Linked DNA regions of Homo sapiens: region 2 is linked to region 1. The links come from fine-mapping of genetic effects on gene expression. A gene starts in region 1. The other region holds a variant in brackets. All regions are shown on one strand. Distances are from middle to middle. Region 1 holds the start of SETX (senataxin). Region 2 overlaps SETX (senataxin).

Evidence for each region. PIP is the estimated chance that this variant, and not a neighbour inherited with it, causes the effect. A credible set is the group of variants that fine-mapping cannot tell apart.
Region 2: its variant is the best candidate, but not a certain one, in a credible set for the expression of SETX in whole blood (TOPMed, PIP 0.85).

What each region holds. Positions count from the first base shown.
Region 1 is chr9:132,353,568-132,356,355 of GRCh38, reverse strand. It overlaps SETX (senataxin), which reads left to right and starts at 1,370. Exons shown (of 26, transcript NM_015046.7): 1 at 1,370-1,439; 2 at 2,601-2,707. RefSeq lists silencers at 1,071-1,460, 1,511-1,720 and enhancers at 1,105-1,604, 586-1,785, 1,605-2,106.
Region 2 is chr9:132,269,912-132,272,699 of GRCh38, reverse strand. SETX (senataxin) reads left to right here. Exons shown (of 26, transcript NM_015046.7): 24 at 892-990. Among named protein-coding and RNA genes, the nearest start is that of SETX, 84 kb to the left of the region's middle. RefSeq lists a silencer at 2,770-2,788 and enhancers at 2,045-2,788, 2,149-2,788. The variant G/C (reference allele first, on the strand shown) is at 1,320.

The sequences.
Region 1 (2,788 bases):
TGGCACACGCCTGTACTCCCAGCTACTCGGGAGGCTGATGCAGGAGAATCATTTGAACCCAGGAGGCGGAGGTTGCAGTGAGCCGAGACTGCGCCACTGCACTTCAGCTTGGGTGACAGAGCGCGACTCCATCTCAAAAACAAAAAAGGGGGGGGATAGGCTTTCCAGTGGATTTTACTCATTTTTATTTATTTATAGACTTTTCTGAGACAGGGTCTTGCTTTGTTCCCCAGCCTGGAGTGTAGTGGCACAGTCACGGCTCACTGCAGTCTCGATCTCCCGGTCTCAATGGATATCCACCCCCTGCCTCAGCCTCCCAACAAGCTGGGCCCACAGGTGCTAATTTTTTTTTTTTTTTTTTTTTTTCCGGAGAGAGAGTCTCGCTCCTTTGCCCAGGCTGGAGTGCAGTGGTGCGATCTCGGCTCACTGCAACCTCTGCCTCCCGGGTTCAAGCCATTCTCATGCCTCAGCCTCCTGAGTAGCTGGGATTACAGGCACCCGCCACCACGCCCAGGTAATCTTTTTATTTTTAGTAGAGACGGAGTTTCACCATGTTGGTCAGGCTGGTCTCGAACTCCTGACCTCAGGTGATCCACCCGCCTCGGCCTCCCAAAGTGCTGGGATTACAGGCGTGAGCCACCGCGCCCGGCCTCGGTGGCTGAGTTTTAATTTTTTTTTGTACATACGGGTGTCTCGCTATGTTGCACAGGCTGGTCTCTGAACTCCGGGCTCAAGCGAGCCTCCCGCCTGGGCCTCCCAAAGTGGTGGGATTAGAAGCGGGAGCCACCGCACCAGCGAGGGATTTACTCTGCTGTGTTGCGCATCGCGCGCATTGTTCGCAAGACCTAAGGTCTCCCTTTCTTGTAATATAAAGGATATACACATATTCCTCCGAAATTACACGTTTATGTAATTTACATTTCAGGTCTTTAAAGGAAATCTAAAGAGAAAAATTACTTCGTCACCGTAGTACATCCGCTGAGACACCTGAGGCGTGGAAAAAAGAAGAAAAAAGAGGGAACGGAAATGGCCAGCGGGTAAGGGCTGACCCCACCCGCAGCAGAGCTCATCCCGGAGCCGCCCCACCCGCAGGAAGCCCCGGGCGGGGCCGAGGTCAAGGTTCCGCGGCAAACTCTCCCCGTCCACCCTGACGGGGACTCGGGATTGGTCGGGCCCCAGCTGCCCGGACGTGACGCCAGCGCCCGGCGTGGGCGGTGCACCGCGGCCGCTCTTCCCATGCCCCGCCCCCTGGGGGGCACCAAAACCAGAAAGCAGCGGCCGGGGCGGGGCCTGCGGCCGGCCGACTCAGCGCGGGGGCGGGGCCTACCTCGCGGCAACAGCTGGTTGGTAGCTGCGGCTGCGGGCCCGCACTTCCGCTGGTGGCCTAGAGCGGGGCCCGGTATGGAGGTGGGCTAGAGGCCGACGCCAGCCAGAGAGCGGTGAGGGTAGCGGCGGGCTGGAGGCCGTAGGTCGGGCGGGCGTGAGCGCAGGCGCGGCTTGTGCTTGCAGGGCCGCTTCGGGGAACCATCGCGGCGCCTAGGTCCCGGTGGGCGGATGGGGGAAGAGTCGGCGCGGGCTCGGCCGCTTCCCTCGGTGCGGGGGCGGGAGCACCCCTCGACGGCTGGCGGCCGCCTGTTGCCTTCCTGCGCGCTGGACCCGGCCGCTGCGACCCCCTGTCCTTCCGTTGTCTACACTGCGGTCTCGTGTGAGCTGTTTTTGGTGTGGATACTGCGTAGTTTCCTTGGGGCTGAGCGGGAGGTCTCGGGGTGGAAAGTGTCGGTTCCCTCCACACGCTCGTCTGCCTCTCGCCTGGAGTCCCTCCCTTTGTTTTTTTTTCTTTTTTCTTTTTTTTTTTTTTTTGAGACGGGGTCTCGCTCTGTCACCCAGGCTGAAGTGCAGTGGAACAGTCACGGCTCGCAGCAACCTCGTCTTCCTGGGCTCCAGCGATCCTTCCGCCTCATCCCCCCGAGTAACTGGGACCATAGGCGCGCGTCACCACGCCCGGCTAATTAAAAACAAAATGTGTTGCAGAGACAGGGCCTGGCTGTGTTTCCCAGGCTGAGCTCAGCTGCTCCAGGGATCCTCCGAGCCGCCGCGCCCGGCCGGTCCCTTCGTTTGGAGGAGAGTCTGTTTCTCCCACTTGGAGGGGCTGGAGCTTTTGCTGCTGGCCACAGGACTTTGTCCGTCCTCCCCAACTTCTGGGGATCTAAGGATGTGCCCAGCAATTTGCACGACCCAAGTGAAACGGGGGTGACTGCCTTGAGGGAAAAGAGCTCCACAAGGAGAAGGCCGAGTGTGGTATTTGATAAGTGACACAGCTGAGGATCCTAGGATTGATGTTACCTGCGCGGGCTAATAACTTGGGGGATTTTTGGCTCGGTGCCTAGCTGTCCCCGTGAGTGGGGACAGCCCCTTGTGGAACTGGGAGTCAGAATTGCAGTTCTGCTGTTTCCTGGAAGTCCACAGCCAAGTTGTCTAACCTATCTGGGCTTCCTCATCAGCCAGCAGTATCTGTCTGTAATAGGATCGATACCAGGCTCAGATGGGATATAGAGTATAAATGCCACTTACCAATTTCGTTTTTTGTTTTTTAATTTCAGAAATGTTCTTTTGGGGCCAGAGTCTGGGCATATATGAATGCAAATCCGTGTTTGTTCACAACTAAGCCCAGCTGAGACGATCACTTTTCTGTAGGCCATTTGTCCAGGTAATAATTTTTTTTTTTAGCAGGAGTTCAGAGCACCAAGGTAAGTGCAATGATGGAAACATGTGCAGAGTCCTAAAGGGA
Region 2 (2,788 bases), 84 kb after region 1:
TAGAGACAGGAAGTGTATTAGTGGTTGCCAGGGAATGGAGAGAGGAGGAAATTCAGGCTAACCTCCAAGAAAATGTTTTTAAAATGTCTTAGCAGCCGAGCATGGTGGTGCATGCATCTCCTTGGGAGGCTGAGGCAAGGAGGATTGCTTGAGCCCCAGAAGTTTGAGTCCAGCCTGGGCAACGCAGTGAGACTCTGTCTCTCTCTCTCTCTCTTTTTTTTTTTAAGTTTCTTTAAAAATAAAGACTGTAAGGCCAGGCATGGTGGCTCACATCTATAATCCTAACATTTTGGGTGGGTGAGGTGGAAGGATTGCTTGGGGCCAGGGGTTTGAGACCAGCCTGGGCAACATGGCAAGACCCCATCTCTACAAAACATGGAAAAATTAGGGTGGTGGTCCATGCCTGTAGTCCTAGCCACTTAGGAGGCTGAGACGGAGCTCAGGTGTTCAAGTTACTGTGAGCTATGAATATGCTGGTGCACTCCAGCCTGGACAAGAGTGAGGCTAGACTGTCAAAAACCAAAAAACTAAGCCGGACGCGGTGGCTCACGCCTGTAATCCCAGCACTTTGGGAGGCCGAGGCGGGCGGATCATGAGGTCAGGAGATGGAGACCACAGTGAAACCCAGTCTCTACTAAAAATACAAAAAATTAGCTGGGCATGGTGGCGGGCACCTGTAGTCCCAGCTACTCAGGAGGCTGAGGCAGGAGAATGGCGTGAACCCGGGAGGCAGAGCTTGCAGTGAACTGAGATCGCGCCACTGCACTCCAGCCTGGGCGACAGAGTGAGACTCCGTCTCAAAAAAAAAAAACCAAAAAACTAGTTTATAAATATGTATACTTAATAATTATCTTCCTTTTTCCAGTAAATATGTTTCTCTTTTGTAAATAGACCAGCAGAAGTAGACACTGTGGATGCATTCCAGGGTCGGCAGAAGGATTGTGTTATTGTTACGTGTGTCAGAGCAAATAGCATCCAAGGTTCAATTGGGTGAGTTACTGTCATTGTTGCTCTTTTATACTTGTATACATTGTTGCTTGTTTATAGTTCAGGATTAGGTTCATTATCACTGTTAGAGAACACCATTTGCTTTTTTAATTTTCTTTTGTGAAAACCTGTGTAATACTATGAAAGTTTCTCTTTTAAGTTGTGAAATAGACCCACTGTTAGATCTTGGTGCAATCTTGGCCCACTGCATCCTCCACCTCCTGGGTTCAAGCGATTCTTCTGCATCAGCCTCCCGAGTAGCTGGGACTACAGGCATGTGCTACCACGCCCAGCTAATTTTTGTATTTTTCTGTAGAGACAGTGTTTTGCCA[G/C]GTTGCCCAGGCTGGTCTCAAACTCCTGAGCTCAAGTGCTCCACCCACTTTGGCCTCCCAAAATGCTGGGATTACAGGCGTGAGTCACTGCGCCCGGCCTTGGTGTCTTTTATATTAACCCATTTCATAGTGTGAATCTGTTCTTTTATTTAATAAGATTCAAATAAATAATTAGATTATACTTTGCAGAGGCATATTACTCCCCATGGTATGTGTCAAAGTGTCATTGTTTTCTGTGTTTTCCTGCTTTGGCTAAATTTGTTCACCTTAACTACTGTCAGTTTATTTAAGATGCTAAGGACACCTGTATGAGTGACAGAAAATATCCCAAGCCCAAGACTCTTACATGATTATTTGTTTCTTGTCATGAGAAGCAGACAGAATTTACAGGTTATAAATTAGTTCGTTTTCAAATAAAATAGTAATTAAAGTAATCTTTGCCCCTCCCTGGGATGGGCTGCATATACAGAGCCCAGTTGTATCTCAGGGTCAGTTTATAAATAGACCTTTCTTTCCCAGCTAATTTGAAATTTCACTTTTATCATACATCAATTCTATTTCTGAGCTCTTTTTCTGATCTACTGAAATATTTATCTGGTGTTCATGTATTTCTACACTAGTTCTACAATATCTTAACAGTCTAGATATATTTAAATGTAAGAATAAAGTGATTAGGCTGGTACCACATTTTTAGGATTTTTCAAGGCTTCAAGATTGCACTGTTAAAATTTCCAATTATCTTATCCAGGTAAAAATAGGAAATTGATAGATGCATCACTTTGAAGGAAGCCCCGAGGTTTTGGTTTGTTTCCTGTTTTTAATAGGAATTCTTCTGTGCCCGGTACCCTGTATTGGGACGGAGAGTAAGAAAGCACTGTGACTTCTAGAGGAGTGAAGGAGTCCCGGAAAAGCTGCCTGCAGTCCACCTGTGTCTCACATGGGCATGCTGAGTCATTCTAGAGTTCACCTGTGTCTCACTGGCATGCTGAGTCATTCTAGAGTCCATCTGTGTCTCACATGGGCATGCTGAGTCTAGAGTCCACCTGTGTCTCACACGGGCACGCTGAGTCATTCTAGAGTCTACCTGTGTCTCACATGGGCACGCTGAGTCATTCTAGAGTCCACCTGTGTCTCACATGGGCATACTGAGTCATTGTAGAGTCCACCTGTGTCTCACATGGGCACGCTGAGTCATTCTAGAGTCCACCTGTGTCTCACATGAGGATGCTGAGTCATTCTAGAGTCCACCTGTGTCTCACACGGGCACGCTGAGTCATTCTAGAGTCCACCTGTGTCTCACATGAGGATGCTGAGTCATTCTAGAGTCCACCTGTGTCTCACACGGGCACGCTGAGTCATTCTAGAGTCCACCTGTGTCTCACATGAGGATGCTGAGTCATTCTAGAGTCCACCTGTGTCTCACACGGGCACGCTGAGTCATTCTAGAGTCCACCTGTGTCTCACATGAG